Linked DNA regions of Homo sapiens. The protein of the gene in region 4 purifies or fractionates together with the protein of the main gene of each other region. This does not show direct contact. Each region holds a gene or a part of one and is shown on either strand. Other genes may lie near its edges. The genes, in order: SNX9, PIP, DBNL, MAP4K5 and PCMT1.

The links.
Region 1: the proteins of MAP4K5 (region 4) and SNX9 purify together in Homo sapiens (affinity purification with mass spectrometry, with the first as the bait; one study listed by BioGRID). This does not show direct contact.
Region 2: the proteins of MAP4K5 (region 4) and PIP purify together in Homo sapiens (affinity purification with mass spectrometry, with the first as the bait; one study listed by BioGRID). This does not show direct contact.
Region 3: the proteins of MAP4K5 (region 4) and DBNL purify together in Homo sapiens (affinity purification with mass spectrometry, with the first as the bait; one study listed by BioGRID). This does not show direct contact.
Region 5: the proteins of MAP4K5 (region 4) and PCMT1 purify together in Homo sapiens (affinity purification with mass spectrometry, with the first as the bait; one study listed by BioGRID). This does not show direct contact.

What each region holds. Positions count from the first base shown.
Region 1 is NC_000006.12:157,906,459-157,910,382, reverse strand, and holds part of SNX9 (sorting nexin-9), read right to left. Parts: intron 719-3,924; coding exon 593-718; intron 476-592; coding exon 358-475; intron 1-357. UniProt on the Homo sapiens protein: Involved in endocytosis and intracellular vesicle trafficking, both during interphase and at the end of mitosis. Required for efficient progress through mitosis and cytokinesis. Required for normal formation of the cleavage furrow at the end of mitosis.
Region 2 is NC_000007.14:143,137,343-143,140,348, reverse strand, and holds the end of PIP (prolactin-inducible protein precursor), read right to left. Parts: intron 1,275-3,006; coding exon 1,160-1,274; intron 832-1,159; coding exon 707-831; 3' UTR 610-706; downstream 1-609.
Region 3 is NC_000007.14:44,061,278-44,065,201, reverse strand, and holds part of DBNL (drebrin-like protein), read right to left. Parts: 3' UTR 2,439-3,924; coding exon of another isoform or gene 2,272-2,438; 3' UTR 371-2,271; coding exon of another isoform or gene 190-370; 3' UTR 87-189; coding exon of another isoform or gene 1-86. Other genes in the region: PGAM2 (phosphoglycerate mutase 2), read left to right, coding at 1-86, 190-370, 2,272-2,438. UniProt on the Homo sapiens protein: Adapter protein that binds F-actin and DNM1, and thereby plays a role in receptor-mediated endocytosis.
Region 4 is NC_000014.9:50,525,760-50,529,683, forward strand, and holds part of MAP4K5 (mitogen-activated protein kinase kinase kinase kinase 5), read right to left. Parts: intron 1-3,924. UniProt on the Homo sapiens protein: May play a role in the response to environmental stress. Appears to act upstream of the JUN N-terminal pathway.
Region 5 is NC_000006.12:149,787,478-149,791,401, reverse strand, and holds part of PCMT1 (protein-L-isoaspartate(D-aspartate) O-methyltransferase), read right to left. Parts: intron 1,449-3,924; coding exon 1,344-1,448; intron 1-1,343. UniProt on the Homo sapiens protein: Initiates the repair of damaged proteins by catalyzing methyl esterification of L-isoaspartyl and D-aspartyl residues produced by spontaneous isomerization and racemization of L-aspartyl and L-asparaginyl residues in aging peptides and proteins.

The DNA.
Region 1 (3,924 bases), on a different chromosome or scaffold from region 4:
ATTTTAGGCTATTTGAATTATTTCTATTTTTTCAGGTGTCATTTTTCACATATTTTAAATGTACACATTTCTTTTGTAGAAAAGGTACAGCAATGAAGACAATGACTGCTGGAATTCCAGACACATACCAAAACCTGTGATTTGCACATTAAACGTTCTTGTGAGACGTTTAGGCAACTTCCAGATAGATGTACAACATGCAATGGTTCTCTCTTCATAGCTGTATTTAATTACTGTTTCCAACTCCTGCATCCTGCTGCTCTACAGGATGGAAAATGCCATCACTGACTTACAGGAAGATAATCTGACTGGAGTCTTTCTATTTGTCATCCTGGGTTTAGCATTACACACACTCACCTGTGACTTGTTTGTCTGGAAGAGAAGGGATTGGAATGGCTGACCCAAACTTAACCAGGAGACGCTCATATAACCAGTCAAAGTGCTTATACCTGTGGTTTACAGATCGATTAGTGTTCTACAAAATAAGGGAAAGAGAAAAGGTTACCAATGCCAACTCTAGAAAATGAAGAAAAAAGCAAGCTGCAATCAGTGATCCAAACATGATTCTGCTTTTGATAACGTGGATACTTACAGTAGGTGTTAGCTGATATTCGATGTAGCTCTTTAGACCATACATTTTGGAGCCTTTCCTGGGATCTGCTACCACACAGTCAAAAGTAGAGGTAGGATAAACCCACATTGGGCCATAATCTCCAACCTATGCCAATGTTCCAGAAAGAAGTAATTTTGTTACATGGAAAAATAATAAATACAATTGATGTGAATCAGCAAGTAATTCTTTTCAGAATGAGAAGTCCTTTGGAGGGTCATTCTTGTTCCTCTTTGAAAGGTACATAAATGGTTCAATGGTTTCTGTTCCTGTTAGATATTATGTTTAAAGAACACACCTGTGGGAAACCCTTCTGCTCCCACGTGAGTAGCTCAGCCCATGGAGAGGAGACACCAGCTTCCCTCTCCCAAGGACAGTGCTGGTTACAAGACAATGTTTCTTTCTAGTCTAGCTGTCTCAAGCTACACGTGATGAAGGACTAGTTTTTAAAAATTTCGAATCTATCACAGACTAATAGTTTGGTGAAATATAACATTACACATTTTGATTTTTCAACAATACCAAATTGTCCTCAAGTTTTCAAAATATTCTCATGTACTGTACCTATCTCACGGTGGATCAGGAACAAGCAGTTTTCAGATGGGCAAGTGGTCTGTGGACCATACTTTGAGTAGCATTGTTCTGGCTCATAGAAACGATTAATCAGATTGGCCAGAGCCTGATAGTCATTGTTTTACTACTAGTGGCAAGGTGGGGGGAGGGGGAGGTACTACATCTTAAAAGCAAGAACCAGGCTAGCTGTTTTCTTCCGTGGACTGCTATGTGCCTAAGCACAGTGGGCTGGCTCACTTCCAACCCCCGGGTATCACGTCCACCTGGGCAAGGCTTGCCTGAAGAGGGTAGGCCTCCATTCTTTTCTCACTGGCCTTCTCTTCTATCTGTGACTAGGGCAAAAGTTCACAAATTCAGGCGAGGCTTACACTAGCTCACTGGGGTTTTAGTTGTGGTGGGAGGTGAGGAAGGGAAACCAGCTAAATTCTATGTGGGGGTGTAGAGACCTCGTGTAAGTTTTGAGCCTGAGGATCATTTCTTCTAGGCACTGCTAGGTGACAATAGGTCTGCTGTCCCAAACCTGGTTTTTTCATCTTATTTAAAACAGCATCCAAGGCCATGGGGGCAGCTGCAGAGGAACCTGGATGCTGGAGCTCATGTACAGGCTTCTGGAATCACTACCTGAGTCACCAATAGTCTCAAGTTGGTTCTGCCTCATTCATTTCATAAACTTTGATCACAATGACAGATTCTAGAGGTTCAGACTGCAGGACAGTAGCTCTTATCAAAACACATTTCAGAGCAATAGAAGTCCTTATTATACTGAGAATGTTATCTATCTTCTTGGCTTGAAAATGAAAAATAATTGAGTTATAATCCAAGAAGAGAATGAAAAAACAAACACATGGACTGTAAAAGGACCACTATTCAGGAAGCAGATTCACTCAGAGATTCATTCAGAGATTCAAGGAGAATGAAATAATTTATGGAACAGGTTTTATTCTTGCAGACTTGAAAAAGTACCATAAGAAAGTAAAAAGAAAATGAGAAAAATCACACAGATTGCGCTGAAGGAAGAGAGATTTGTTTCGGCTGAGACCTCAGAGAGGCAAGGCCAGACAGACATAAAAAGGAAAAAAAGGTATACCCAGTCCTAATTTTTTTTTTTAAGAGGAAGATGGGAAAAGCGGATTGGGATATTAAAGTTCAGAGGCTGTTAGGTCAGGAAGGTGACCTACTCCAAGGATAAGAGTAGTTTAAAAAGAGACTAAAATCTCTGAGAACAATTACTATAACCCCCTCAGGGAGAGCCCAGATCCAAGAAACTAGCTGAAAGCTGCAGAGGAGATGACTTTCGGGACCTCCCTCAGTGAGTGGGCCGAGAGCAGCAACTGTGCTTGGCTAAGGCCCAATTTCACGGGGCTCTGTTTCATGAGTGGGCAAGGTTACTGCACTTTTAGAGCAAAGAGTTAGTCTCTGCTTTCTCTGGGCCTCCTGAAGACGCGGTGGCTTTCCTCAGCTTCTTCCATGTATAGACGCCCACACAGGCAGACCTGCCTACTGGGTGCATGGGTGCAGTTCTACTTAAAACTTGCCGGTCAATGAAAGGCTGGAACCCTTAGCTCTGTACCACCACTGCAAACCTGGGACAAAGTCCCCTTTAAGAATGTGAGGCAGGCCGGGCGCAGTGGCTCATACCTGTAATCCCAGCACTTTGGGAGGCCAATGTGGGCGGATCACAAGGTCAGGAGTTCAAGACCAGCCTGGCCAATATGGTGAAACCCCGTCTCTACTATAAAATACAAAAAAAATTAGCTAGGCGTGGTGGTGCATGCCTGTAATCCCAGCTACTCGGGAGGCTGAGGCAGGAGAATTGCTTGAACCCGGGAGGCAGAGGTTGCAGTGAGCCAAGATCACACCACTGCACTCCAGCCTGGGTGACAGAGTGAGACTCTGTCTTAAAAACAAACAAACAAACAAAAAAACAAAACTGAGGCAGAGCTGTGCGCTCTTGATTTTGAGGAGTTTTAAATGTCATGAAAAGAATAATGGTACATGTTCAATTTTTATTAAGTCCAGAGAAAACAGGAAAAAAAAATCTTTAATATAACTACTCAGAAGTTAATTATCCCAAATTTGCTTTGAGGGAAAAAGCATAAAAAGGGCTCTTGGTTACAGCTCTTCAGCTTGGAGGCTTCCAGGATTTGGAGTTTTTCAAACATGCAGGCACAAGTAATTAGAGAATCTAATACTATTCCTGCAATTTTATCAAGTTTCCAAAGACTACAGAATAAGACCAGATGTTTCCTCATCCTCGATTGAGTCCAGGATGAGAACACTCAAGGCTTCAGGTTCCCAATCTAATTGTTACAGGGTTAAGTCAATAGGATCAGAAGATAGCTACAGTTCTCTTTTCCAGAATTTCATTTGGGAATCTACAACTAAATATCACCTAGACAGAAAATCTACCACCAATCAAAATGTGGAATGAAACCGAAGGGCTTGTGTCACATTATGCAATAACCAAGTAATTCTAAGACAGATATTCTCAATGATGTCTTTAACTCCCAGCTTCCATTTGGTAGCTCCTTATCTCAATTTGACAGCTGGTTTACTGGAAAAAACACTATTACCAAAAACACTATTACCCATATATCTGAAAGGGTACCTTATTCTGATAACATACATGTACTTTACAAGGGAAGAAACATAAATATTTGAATTGAGTTCATCAGTTAAACATATAGGGCTGGCAGAAAAACTATGTAAAATACACTTCAAGACACTTTAGAAAAAAATGA
Region 2 (3,006 bases), on a different chromosome or scaffold from region 4:
GCTTTGGGCTCTTGGTGCCTGCGTCCTATCTACTAGAATGCCCTCTGCCCACTTCGTGCACCTGATCCTTGCTCATATTCCACTTCTATGGGCTGGCCCTCTGGGATGAAGCCCCTCAGGGCTCCCTCTGCCCCTTTACTCCTCTATTATGCCTGAGCTCCTCAGGCAGAGCTGCACAGGACCCTGATATCCCTGAGTGTCACAATCCATTGAAAACAAGCAACAGAATAGCATAGAATGCTACTGCTCATTTAGGGGGCCATGGACTCCATCCCTGACTCTGCTGCATGCAACAGGACTCCTGTCTTCTGGGATCTGAGCTGTTGCTGGAGGGCAGTGGGATGGAGAGAGGTCAAGCAACAGGGAGGCTTGGTGCCTGCCCTGGCTCTGCCACTCCTGTGCCGTGAACTTTAGGGCCACTGCTTTTCCTCTCTGTGAGCATAGCTCCTCTTCCCAGTTTCTTCTTCTCTCCCTCTTCATACCAATGGGCAGTGAGAACCCGTACAATCTCCTCAGTAAAGGTTCTTTGAAAGACAAATGTTCTAGAAATTTCAGGTAATCTGGGGTTCTTCAGGAGCAGATTTTGGAGATACAACAGAACATGGAGAAGCATGTTAAGAAGTTTATTTTATAGACCACAGCAGAAATTCCAGCCAAGTTTCTTTAGAGGAAATCACCTGGGTGTGGCAAACAGACAGGGCTTCCATTATTCTACCTTTAGGATTTCAATAGTATAAAACCGGTTGTTTTTGATGGGGATTACAGCAGCATCATCAGGGCAGATGCCTAATTCCCGAATAACATCAACGACGGCTGCAATTTGCACAGTTCCTGAAAAAGACAGGGACGGAGATCATCTCTCAGACACCCCGGCCATGTCCTGTCTTTTCTACTCATATCAGGCATCTGCCCCCTGGGGTTCAGTTTCCCCAAATCCTTTGCAAATTTGTCTCCTGTATCAACTTTTTGCACTCAATGCCTCTGTCTTAGAACCTGGGTGCTTTCCCCATCTGCTCTCCCCATGCTCTTCCCTCCCTCCCTTCTGTCCTTCTGCCCTGAGGTCCTGGTCCTGCTCGGTTCGCAGCCATGTTTCTGTTTATAGTTTCTCCTCCCTGGTGGCTGGTGGGTAGTTCCCTCCTTGGACAACTTCTGTACTTACTGTTGGTGTAAAAGTCCCAGTAGAAGGTTTTTGGATTGTCGTCACATAGGCAGGCAGTATACTTATAGTTAAATGCACCTTGTAGAGGGATGCTGCTAATGAGGTAAGTTTTAACCTGGTGAGGAGAAGGTGGGAGGGGGAATTCATTGTTATTTTGGGGAATGGGTAAGGGAGGGAAAAATAGGAGAGGGAAAAGCCGGAGGAGAAGAGTGGGGGTGGAGGTGGGCCTAGGGCAAGGGGGAGTCTACTGTTGTAGTATCATTTCAGGAGCCAAAGTCTAGGTCAGAAGGTTTTCCCTTCCAATGCCCTCAAACTCCTGCCTTAGCAGTGTGGAGAAGCTCAGGAGGAGATAGGGATGCAAGTGAATCCACAGGGCAAGGAGAGCTCATCCAGGGCAGCTGTCCAGCTGAGGAGCAGGCTTGCCTTAGTCACCAGCCAGAGGTTTCAGGAATCGACCTGCAATCACGTTTACTCTGAGACCTGGTGAGACAGCAGCCTGGCCACTTGCGTGTAGGAGCCAATGTCAGGCCTTGTTGTCAGAGCTGTGACCAAGCCCCATCTGTGCTCCTCTCTGACTTGGTGACCTTTGGTGATGAGAGGCCTCTCACTCTCACTTTCCTCAGGTATGAGGTGGAAACAATTAACTACCAAACCTGGCTGTTAGATAAGCAAATAACATCTTGAATGTAAATTTCTTTTTAACTTGAGTGCTTTGCAATTCAAGATCCCAGATTATTGTATATATAAATTTCAGTGGAGTCAGAGGATTTTGTCCAGTTAACGTTTAACACAGCAGTTTTATCCTGGGGTCCATAGACCCAGAGGGATCTGTGGATAGCATTCAGTGAGTCTGTGGACTCAGGCAGGGGAAAAATATGCATCTTTATTACTAACCTCTAATTGAAATTCAGCATTCCTTCTGTTATGAATGTCATCAAGGAACCACAGTGCCATTAGCAGTATGTGTGATTTTATCACAAGGAGAAAAGTAGATATGTACATATCATTGCACGGATCCAGAGGTCCGAAATACAGCCTGAATGTACTACCTTGAATGTATGGCAGTTATCAGACTGGCTCATGGTCACGACTGAGGCCCAGTGCCATTCTGCCCACCTCCTGCAGCTTGCTCAGCTACCTGGCAACTCAGCATCAAGTAGCCGTTCAGACCTAAACAGTAAATTCAGGTGTTCTCACCCTTGGAGTTTTACTCAGAATGCCTTGGAGAATCCTGGCGTTTCTTTGGAGAAGACTACCTGTGCCTTGTTTCCCTTTTTTTTTTTTTTCTAAGAGACAGAGTCTCACTCTGTTGCCCAGGCTGGAGTGCAATGGTGCGAACGTGGCTCACTGCAACCTCCGCCTCCCAGGTTCAAGTGATTCTTCTGCCTCAGCCTCCTGAGTAGCTGGGATTACAGGTGCGTGCTACCAGCCCTGGCTAATTTTTGTATTTTTAGTAGAGACAGGGTTTCACCATGTTGGCCAAGCTGGTCTCGAACTCCTGACCTCAGGTGATCTGCCCACTTTGGCCTCCCAAAGTGCTGGGATTACAGGCACAAGCCACTGTGCCCGGCCTTGTTTACCTTTCTGTTACATTAGCAACAACATATCGTCATGAATCAGAATTTACACCACTTGTACAATAAAAGATCAGAATCCGTTGCATGCCTAGCATGGCACGTGGGACGTGTTGCCAAAGACCAGTGCAGTTTAATGTACTTCTTCAAGCTAAGTAACAACATCCATCACACAGATAATGTGTTCATAGAATAAAATTCAACTCTTCTATATTTTAAATGTATTGCTTTCCCAGCTAATGTGTGCATAAAGAAACACATACCTTACTGCAT
Region 3 (3,924 bases), on a different chromosome or scaffold from region 4:
AGCAGGTGAAGATCTGGAGGCGCTCCTTCGACATCCCGCCGCCCCCGATGGACGAGAAGCACCCCTACTACAACTCCATTAGCAAGGTGGGCTGCCTTTGCTGGGAAGGCCTCTGGGAAGCTGCAGAGTGGGGAGTCGGGTGGGGGCCCACTGGCTTGGGAGGGAAAGCAGCGTGCCTGTGTCCCCCAGGAGCGTCGGTACGCAGGCCTGAAGCCCGGGGAACTCCCCACCTGCGAGAGCCTCAAGGACACCATTGCCCGGGCCCTGCCCTTCTGGAACGAGGAGATTGTTCCCCAGATCAAGGCCGGCAAGCGAGTGCTCATTGCAGCCCACGGGAACAGCCTGCGGGGCATTGTCAAGCACCTGGAAGGTGAGGCCACCTTCAGGAGCCTGGGCAGGGTGGGTGGGCAGCAGCCCCAGCTGGCTTCTCATCTCAGCAAAGTCTCTCGCCCATGGACCAGGCTTTCTAGGCGTGGGGCTCCACATCATTCACTGAAAAAGGAGGGCTGAGAAGCCATTTTTTAGTTTTGTGAAATTTTCCCCATTTCTGTGTAACTGGGACACACTCCACAGGGGCTGACTGCACTCGAAGCTCGCTGTGTCCCGAGGTGGGGCAGGCTCCAAAGGTGGCATCTGCCAAGGGACACCCAGCTAGGAAACGGAAGGGCTGGGCTTAGAGCATCTGGCTCCAAATCCCAACTTACTGTGGGGCCCTGGACAAGCCACCTCCATCTCTGGGCCTCTCCCTTTTCCGGGGTGGTGGGGAGCTCCCCCTGGTACTGAATTCCTCTTGATGTAGGCTTGGACCCCTCGCAGGGCCCTCCCCCATCAGGTCCTCAGAATCCCTGCATGAGCTTCACCACCTATCTCCCTCTGGAGCCCCTCTCTGGGCAAAGGAAAGACCAATCAAAAGAGGGGTGCAGGACTATGGAGTGGCCAGACTCTGGGCTTGCAGCTGGGCTCCCACTGAAGAGCAAGGGCTGACAAATGGGCCCGGGATGCATGGGCGCAGTAAGGCCTCGCCCAGAGTGACTGGCACCTCCGCTCCGCCTCCCACCTTAGTATTCTGACACAAGGGCAGTCTAAATTAGCATCTGAATGACCTTAAAGCTTGTTGAGTCCTGGAAAGGCTAGAAGGGTGTGCCCCAGACCTCCTGCTCCTAGGGCCGTTGGGCAGTTGGCCAGAGCACCCAGACCGGCAGGCCCCGGAGACCCAGCCAGCCCCAAGCCTGCCCGCTCCAAACACGGACACCTGGCACCTGGCACTGGGGCCAGGCAGAGGGAAGGACCACCTGCCTCCTCTCCCTTCCGGAGACTTCATGCAGCCCCATGACCCTCCCACAGCCTGGTTTGGGGAAAGGGGACGCACTTTTGGTGGTGAATATGAGGGATTTCACTCTGACTCCCCAGAGAACATTTTCTTAAACCCTCCTGCACGGAGCAGGGGTGGAGTGGCGCGAACATCAAAGGTCGAGCTGCTATTCCCAGCTCAGGGGCTGCAGGAGGCAGGCAGGGTCAGGTTTCGACCAGGCTCGGCCTCCCTGTCCCTCCTCCAGCTCCATTCCGCACTTGCTCCTCTGTTCAGGATGTCTAGAATTTAGAGCACTTTAGAAACCAAAGGGTGCTGGGCACGGTGGCTCACTCCTGTAATCCCAGCACTTTGGGAGGCTGAGGCAGGCAGATCACCTGAGGTCAGGAGTTTGAGACCAGCCTGACCAACATGGTAAAACCCGTTTCTACTAAAAATACAAAATTAGCCGGGTGTGGTGGCGCTCACCTGTAATCCCAGCTACTTGGGAGGCTGAGGCAGAATCACTTCAACCCAGGAGATGGAGGTTGCAGTGAGCCAAGATCGTGCCACTGCACTCCAGCCTGGGCAAGAGGAGTAAAACTCCATCTCAAAAAAAAGAAAAAGAAAAAGAAAAGAAAAAAAAAAAACAAAGGGTGAGTGTCCCTTCCTGACCCTCAACTTCAGTCTGGCTGGAGTCACACTGGGCTGAGGGAACTATGGACAGCACCACCACAGATCACAGCCACTTGGGTGGGGCTGAAGTCCCCATTTTTTTCACCACTGGGCTATTTCTGTAGGCTGCTTGGTCTAACTCAGTTACTCCTTGACCTTTGGCAACATTTCTGTGGCCTCGTTCTCAGGGCTGGGAAGGAATTGGTGCCAGGGGAACTGGCTCTGTGGACCATAAAGGTCACATAGTGTCTGCTGTGTAAACAGGCTGGGGACAGAGGGGCTAAGGACACCTATTCCTTCCGGCATAGGGATGTCAGACCAGGCGATCATGGAGCTGAACCTGCCCACGGGGATCCCCATTGTGTATGAGCTGAACAAGGAGCTGAAGCCCACCAAGCCCATGCAGTTCCTGGGTGATGAGGAAACGGTGCGGAAGGCCATGGAGGCTGTGGCTGCCCAGGGCAAGGCCAAGTGAGGGGTGGGCTTGGGCAATAAAGGCACCTCCCCCAACAGCCTGGAGTCCAGCGCAGCCGTGCATGCCAGGCTCACACCGCCATCAGCTGTGGGGACTCCAGAACCAGGGGTGCAGCCACCCACCCTCCCCCACTCCATACGTGTGTCACCAGGGGCAGGAGCCTAGTACCCACACCTAGTCATCAGGACACTGAGCCAGGGCTGCAACCACTCCATGAGTTTGCAGTCAGGACAAGCCTGTGGTGACCCTGAAGCTTCAGAGCCACTTAGTAACCATGCTCCAGAATTGGCGTGCTTGGGGCCAGTTAGAAGAGGCCAAGTGACCCAGCTCTCCCCATGGGGAGCAAGGACCACAGCCCAGGACACGGCTTCCTGGACAGCTTCCTGCAGAGGGCAGGTGGTCCTCTGCTGTCCTTGCAACCCCCGGGTGGCACTTTGAGCCCTGCCTCTTGGGTTGGGACAGGCAAGCCCACAGGGGGCCTCAAAGCTGGCAACAGCCCAAACCTGGGTCTTCCATGGGAGTGGAGGGGAAGTTCCCTCTTCATGGGAGAGGCACCAGGAAGCCCTGGCGAAAAGGGGAGAGGCCTGAGCACAGGAAGGCCAGGAGCAAGGTTGGGCTCCATGCAGCCTTCACCCCAGGCACTAGCAGGTAACACCTTGAGTCAACCGCCTAGCAGTCTGCCTAGCAGCTCTGGGGCACAGGAGGGACCTAATTCCCCGGATGCTCAGTGGGTGCCAGGTACCTGACGCCACACAGTGGGCCATCCCATGTAGGCAGAGGCTCCCTGAAGCTGGGAGCAGGGCAGCCCTTGGCCTCTCCTAGAGGAACTGGAACGCAGGAAGGCTCCAACTTCAGTCCCATCTTAACATTTAGCCTCTTCCTGGTGGCTGATCATCATCAGCCACAGTCTCAGGGTGAGGGTGCTCACCCCAGACACGGAGCAGAGGCAGACACTGGGCAGGTGGTGGGGTGCTATTCCCACATGGGAGCATTCAGGCTACAGCAGGACAGGTGAGAGCTGCGAGCCTGTGTAGACCAAACTGGGAATTCGTGGTCCAAAAGCATATTTGTTCTTCAGAGACACGGATGAGCTGGGACAGAAAATAGGGGAAGACAACAGGCCAAGGCCACTCTGTGTTACTTTTCCTGAAGTCAGAATCAGTTGAGGCACACACTGGGGCCTGCAGGCATCGAGTGAGCCGCGTGGAGGAACATGTTGTGTCTGCCGTTTTTGAATACCCAGGGTGGGAGCTTGGCCATCTGCATCCCCACTTCCCATAGCCCAGGCAGAGGGACAGAGAAATGGAGTGGGGAGCACAGAGCAGGCTCCAACAAGACAAATTCCCTGCTGCCAAACCACCATGATCCACTCTGACTTTGGTCACAAACTCTGCTAAAAACAATTCTCTACGTTCACTGTTCCCAAGGGTCATTCTAAACAGTGGTGGCCACCACCCCTTAGAAGCAAGAGAAAAAGAAAAAAGGC
Region 4 (3,924 bases):
CTTGAGCCTGGGAGGCGGAGGGTCTAGTGAGCTGAGATCATGCCACTACACTGCAGCCTAAGTGAAAAAGTAAGACCCTGTCTCAAAAAAATAAAAATAAATAATTGAAAAGGTCCAAATTCTTTGATATGACACATGGAGTCCATTAGCTGGTGTTTCCTGCCAGAAAATAGCCTCTATTCTCCATCTATAAAATAATAAAAATAAATAATTGAAATGACATCTCTGCCAGATGTCACACTGAACCTGGAATGAATACAGATGCAGATCTCTCAAAACTCATCACGGCTTCTCAAGCCTCCAGGTGTTTGCACATACTATACCCAAAGCCTGGAATATCTTTTCCTATCTTCTCTACCTAGAAACCACTGGTCTTCTTTTAAAAATCCAGTTAATGTTCCTTCCTCTGTTAATCTTCCTTGGTTCACACTCCTCTCTCTCCCTTCCTTCATCCCCAATAAAGGCAGAGTTTGGCATTTCTTCCACTTCTCCTCTATGGCACATAATTTTCTACCAAATTATGACTGCTTACATGTCTGCTTTCTTTTTTCTTTTTTGAGATGGAGTTTTGCTTTTGTTGCCCAGGCTGGAGTGAAGTGGCGCAATCTCAGCTCACTGCAACCTCCGACCCCCGGGTTCAACCAATTCTCTTGCCTCTCCCAAGTAGCTGGGATTATAGGCACCTGCCACCATGCCCGGCTAATTTTTGTATTTTTAATAGAGATGGGGTTTTGCCATGTTGGCCAGGCTGGTCTCAAACTGCTGACCTCAGGTGATCCACCAGCCTTGGCCTCCCAAAGTGCTAGGATTACAGGCGTGAGCCACTGCGCCTGGCCACGTCTGTTTTCTTGACTAAACCATATGTTCCTTATTGACAGTGTACTTCATCTCATGTTTGCATCCCCATATCCTAACACATTGTCAGCACTCAACAAATACTTCTTTAATGAATGAATGCTTCTAGAAGTGTGATGATACATTAAGCTTTGTCTCTATAAAATGGGATCTTGGGATATGTTTCAAAGTGCCTAAAGCCATTCCAGAATGGTGACTCTTGGCTGGAGGAAAAGAAAGTAAAGGCATACATAAAGGAGATTCCCCATAGCAGACCTAATTCATCTAGCATCCAGAGGAACCCACGTTAGTGATAAGACTACATGACAAAGACTTCTACGCAAATTATAACATCATTTATAATTGCAAAAAAAAAAGTTTAAAAACTAGAAATAACAAATATGCAACTTAGAATGATTAACTAAATGAAGGCTCATTCAACGGATCCTTTAAAAATAGTACTTTTGACTGGGTGTGGTGGCTCACCCTGTAATTCCAGCACTTTGGGAGGCCAAGGTGGGCAGATCACGAGGTCAGGAGATTGAGACCATCCTAGTCAACCTGGTGAAACCCCGTCTCTACTAGAAATACAAAAATTAGCTGAGTGTGGTGGCACATGCCTGTAATCCCAGCTACTCAGGAGGCTGAGGCAGGAGAATCACCTGAACCAGGGAGTCAGGAGGTTGCAGTAAGCTGAGATTGCGCCACCGCACTCCAGCCTGGCGACACTGCAAGACTCCGTCTCAAAAAAAAAAGTACTTTTGTATGATTACACCACTGCACTCTAGCCTGGGCAAAAGAGCAAGACCCTGTCATCCAAAAAAAAAAAAAAATGTACTTTTGTAGAATATTTAACGACTAGGGAAAATGCTGGTCATTTCAATCAAACAGAAAAAAGACCTGTATCATATTCCCAATCATAAATTAAATATAAAAGCCATTTTGGAAATACTGATTTAAAAACATTTAGGAAATAAGCCTGAAATAAACTGTATTAAATTATTAGCAGTACCTATCTCTGAGTAATTTTCTACAACTAATTTGTTCAACAAATATTTATTGAGCATTTGTTTGTTACATTACAAAGATGTGCAAGAGACATCTGTTTCTGTCCCCTGGGAACTAAACATGTTATTCTTCTATAATCAATCAGATAAAGCAATAAAGCTTAGAAAAAAATTCATAGGATTGCCCAGTCTAAATTTATATTCTATGAAAGGTAAAATAATAATAATAATAATAATAAATAAATAAATAAAAATAAAAATAAAAAGCCAGATTGCCAGAACTTCTCTGAAATCTAGGCTGGAAGCAATTTTGATACAAATATTTGGATAAGGGCTGCCCAAATGGCTTGTACTACTGATTATGAACTGTATCATGATGCTGTAGTTGTTATAGATCCTTGTGGTCAGAGGTAGTTGAGAATCTAAATCTCCAGATTTATCCTTCCTGCTGGCAGATCTACATTTTTACAGTAATTACAAATAAAAGCTGCTCAGTTGACATTTAATCCTTCATCCACCATCCACCAAATTCCTTTTCTCTTCTGTGTTTCTTTTCCCTCTACCATTTCCTGCTCTTGCCCTCAATGATTCACTCCATTTATCTAAAAGAATCTTTATGTTCCTCCTCTTCTTTCAACCAAAGAACAGCCAATATAAGATTGAACTCTCCCTCTTGGGGATTCTCAGGAAAGATGGAAGCTTCAGAGGGGATCTGTGGTATTGATGAACATAAAAGTAAATTACGAAGAATCTCAAAGCCAGAGTCCTTTAAAGCTTCTGCTTCAAAAGATACCTAAGGTGTAAAAAAAAAAAAAAAAAAAAAGGCAGGGAAAAATCCAGGCTTGGTGGCTCACACCTATTAATCCCAGCCCTTTGGGAGACTGAGGCAGAAGCATCACATGGGGTCAAGAATTTGAGACTAGCTTGGGCAACACAGGAAGACCCTGTCTTTACATTAAAAAAAAAAAAAATTAGCCAGGCATGTTGCCACACACACTTGTAGTCCCAGCTACTGAGGAGGCTGAGGAGAGAGAATCCCTTAAGCCCAGGAGTTCAAGGCTGCAGTGAGCTGATCGTGCCACTGGACTCCAGCCTAAAGCACAAGACCATCTCTCAAAAACACAGGGGGATATTATCTGAGTAGAACAGTGGCTAATTTACCTTCATTATTCTTTACTGCAGGTATTTCACTAGTTTATATCCTACATTGAAAATACTTCTAAAACGTCCTAGGATGTTCAGCTCATCAGAAACACAGTGATAAATAGCAAAATTACTCTAATTGCCCAGAGCTTAAAAAATTCAGCACTACAGTTTCAGGTTATGTGTTTTTAGGCATACTAAGGAGTAAATTTAAACTGACAAAATTCTATAGGACTTAGATCACTGATAGTGGATATACTATAAAATAGTTTTTCAGAAATATTTCCCCAGAGAACTCAAATAGATGAAATTTGTAATAAAAATACACACGCAGGGTATCATTAGACAGCATCACAGGGCCGGATGTGGTGGCTCATGCCTGTAATTTCAATACTTTGGGAGGCCGAGGCAGGCAGATCATTTAAGCTCAGGAGTTCGAGACCAGACTGGGAAACATGGCAAGACCTCCTCTCTACTAAAAAAAAATACAAAAATTAGCCAGACATGGTGGCACACACCTGTAGTGCCAGCTACTTGGGGGGCTGAGGTGGGAGGATCACTTCAGCCCGGGAGGTTGAGGCTTCAATGAACCAAGATCACACCACTGCCCTCTAGCCTGGGGGACAGAGCGACATCCTGTATCCAAACAAACAGACAAACAGAAGGCATTACAGGAATACATAGAGTATTAAATGCTAACTTAGTGCTATGATGTCAAAAGCATGTGCTCAGAGAACTAAGTGACAGAGTCTGATATTCATTCATTCATTCATTCATCAAATTTTTAGGAAGTACTTACTCTGTGGCAGGCATAATCAGAGACAGAGCAGTGAAGAGATTAAAATCCCTGCCATCATGGAGTATTTTAGTGAATCAAGATAGATAATAAACAAGAAAAAAATAAGTAAAACATTATGTTGGTGATAAGTACAAAGCAAAA
Region 5 (3,924 bases), on a different chromosome or scaffold from region 4:
CCCAGTTAATACTCTGGATAGCCATTGACCAGATAAGACTCTGATGAGAAAAGGCAGAAGTATAACAAGGCATTATTTTTCTAAGAGCACTTTTTCTAATGCAGAAGTTTTACCTTCATCCTGGTAAATCTGCAGGAATGTTTAGAAACCAGGCTCATTCTGGGCAGGGACAGTGGAGAGGGTGCTGGGAAATGAGTCCCCTGGGAGACGGGGCCCAGCTACGATGCTAAATATCTCAGGCTCCTGAGTGACTGGATTTCCCTGGGACCCTCAGACATGTCCCAGGGCCCGGTGGGGAAACTGAGGCCTGTACAAGGAAGTAGAATTCTGAGTTGTCGGGGCTAAGCCTGACCCCCTCTCCATGCTAAGCCCACCCCCCACACTGTGCCTCAGTAGGTTTTTGTTGTTGTTGTTGTTGCCCAGGCTGGAGTGCAGTGGTGCAATCAAGGCTTACTGCACCTCCACCTCCTGGGCTCAAGGGATTTTCCTGCCTCAGCCTCCTGAATAGCTGGGACTGCAGGTGCTCCACCATGCCTGGCTAATTTTTCTATTTTTAGTAGAGATGGGGTTTCACCACGTTGGCCAGGCTGGTCTCGAACTCCTGGCCTCATGTGATCTGCCTGCCTAAGCCTCCCAAAGTGCTGGGATTATAGGTGTGAGCCACCGCGTCTGGTCCCTCAGTAGGTTTTAAGGAGCCTCCAGCCTTCCTTCTCCCCTTCTGGGCCTGACCAGCTATACTGCTCTGTCTCCCCCAGCCACATGCCCCACCAAGTACTGTAGAGAGTCCCCTACCCAGGGTCCCTGCACCATGAGATAAGGTGAAATACCAACTGTGGACCAAATGCAATAAAACCTCTGTTTTTAAGAAGAAAAAAAAAAAAAAAAGAAAAGAAAACCAGGCTTATTCTATTCTTTTCTGCCAAATCAGAACTTGGAAGAAGGTAGTTTGGGAGCTACTGGCCACCATCTTGTGATTACAAGGGTAGAGCTTACCGGATAATGACACCAACATGTGGAGGAAAGTAAAGCCAAATCAAGAAACAGAGAGAACCCTATCGTCAATAACAACATCTGCTCTTCTAAATCCAGCCACACAACAGACCGTATACACCCCTAGACTTTTCTGTTATATGAACTAAATAAACTCCCTTTTAGCTCTGCCAGTTTGGGTTGCATGTTCTGTCACTTGCAACAACAACAAAATCCTAAGTGATGCTCATTCCAACTGCTATCCTAATAGAATTAACAAACAAATAAACATGAAAACCACTAGTTAAAAAAACATACAGCCAAATCATATAATATTCTTCTGTTGGGGCCAGAGTGAGAAATAAAACTCTTACCATACGTGCAAAACATGCAGTAAGGATTCCACTTCCAGATCCTACATCAAGAGCTTTAGCTCCTTCATGCAACTGATCAAATAGAAGTTCTAGCGCATATGCATGCTGCCAAAAGAAAACAAAATATTCATTAAGACTAAAGTACACACATCATGGTATATAAATAAAGTTGCCAACTTTCTACCAATTTTTCTACTATTGTCATCTACCAAGATAACCAAGTTATCTTGGCTATCTGCCCAGGTATTACTTAAGTAAACTGTTTGATTAGAATTCTTACATTCAGATCATGTGTTTCAGTAATTTTAGACCTCCAGTGTGTGAATTTTTAACTTTTAATTAATTCAGTAAAAAAATTAAAAGATTTATAAGTGAAAAGTCTCCACCCTACTCCCATTTCCAACCATCCAGGTTTCACTCTGTAAAGGTAACCAATATTACTAGTTTCTTGTGACTCCTTCCAAAAAGGAAGGAATAGATTCTTTGCATATATAAGCAAATACAAAAATACAAAGGCTAATTTTGTATTTTTAATAGAGATGAGGTTTCTCCATGTTGGTCAGGCTGGTCTCGAACTCTCGACCTCAGGTGATCCGCCCACCTCGGCCTCCCAAAGTGCTGGGATGACATACATAAGCCACCACACCCAGCCAGTATTCTCATTATTAAAAATAATCAGATCAGGCTGGGCGTGGTGGCTCAGGCCTGACATTCCAGCACTTTGGGAGGCTGAGGCAGGTAGATCACGAGGTCAGGAGTTCAAGACCAGTCTGGCTAAGATGGTGAAACTCCATCTCTACTAAAAATACAAGAAAATTAGCTGGGCATGGTGGCAGCCACCTGTAATCCCAGCTACTCGGGAGGCTGAGGCAGAGAACTGCTTGAACCCGGGACGGGGAGATTGCAGTGATCCGAGATCATGCCACTGCACTCCAGCCTGGGCTGTAACAGAGCGAGACTCCATCTCAAAAAAAAAAAAAAAAAAAAAAAAATCAGATCCAATAGCAGTAAACACATTTACTACCAGATCTTGGTTGATAAAAATACCCATCCATTAATCTATAGTGATAAATTAATACATCATTCTATACATATATAAATGAAAAATAGGGAAAACCGTTCCCAACAAATATATAGATACATAATGAATGCACATAGAAAAAATTAAGAAAATCAGCCTTTGGGCAGCCATCTCAATAATAACTGATTGATTCAGGTAAAAATCATAAATGGAAGCTAAAACTAGTGGACTAACATTTGAAAAATAAACAGGATATTTACATAATCTCAAAGGGTTTGCCCCAGATAATTATTAATCACAAAAGGAAAAATAGTAATTTTACAATGGAGTTCAGAAAAAAGTTCTCCAGTGGAAAAACTGGGTCAACACTACCTTAATCAGATGATCAAAGTTAACACCACAATTATGGGACACACTGACATCAAATGCCTCTGCTAAGATACTTCATTTCTGGGATATGCCAGGCAAAAATGCATAACCTATATTGAATTATGAGGAAACATCAAACAAACCCAAATTGAGGGACATTATACAAAATAAATGGCCCATATTCGTAAAAATTTTCAAGGTTTTCAAGGTCATAAAAGAATAAGGAACCATTTCTCAGTCATTCTTTAAAGGAAACTAAAAAGACATGACAATCAAATAAAACTCACAATCTACTATTTTCTTTTCCTATAAGGAATATTATCAGAATAATTGATGAAATCTGAATAAGGTCTATAAATTGGCTAATAGTGTTATATCAATGCTGACTTCCAGATTTCAAAAATTGTACTATGGGTATGTAAGAGAATGTCCTTATTTTTAAAGGTAAAGAGCATTGGCCGGGCACAGTGGCTCACACCTGTAATCCCAGCACTTTGGGAGGCCGAGGCGGATCACGAGGTCAGGAGATCGAGACCATCCTGGCTAACACAGTAAAACCCCATCTCTACTAAAAATACAAAAAATTAGCTGGGCGTGGTGGTGGGCGCCTGTAGTCCCAGTTACTTGGGAGGCTGAGGCAGGACAATGGCGTGAACCCGAGAGGCGGAGCTTGCAGTGAGCTGAGAACGTGCCACTGCACCACTGCACCCCAGCCTGGGCGACAGAGCAAGACTCCATCTCAAAAAAAGTTAAAGGTAAAGAGCATTATGCCTGTAATTTACCCTCAAAGAGCTCAGAAAAACGGAAATATAATACACACACATACACACACACACACACACACAGAGGAGAGAGGGGATAAAGGGAGAGAGAATAAATGATAAAGCAAATGGTGAGATTTGCTTTACCAATGGTAAGACTGTGTGGACAAAAGTACACAGGAACTGTACTATCTGCATAATATTTCTGTAAGTCAGAAATTATGTCAAAGATTTAAAAACATTTGGGCCGGGCATGGTGGCTCACACCTGTAATCCCAGCACTTTGAGAGGCCGAGGCGGGCAGATGACCTAAGGTCAGGAGTTCAAGACCAGCCTGCCCAACATGATGAAACCCTGTCTCTGCTAAAAATACAAAAAATTAGCCGGGCGTGGTGGCGGCTGTAATCCCAGCTACTGGGAAGCTGAAGCA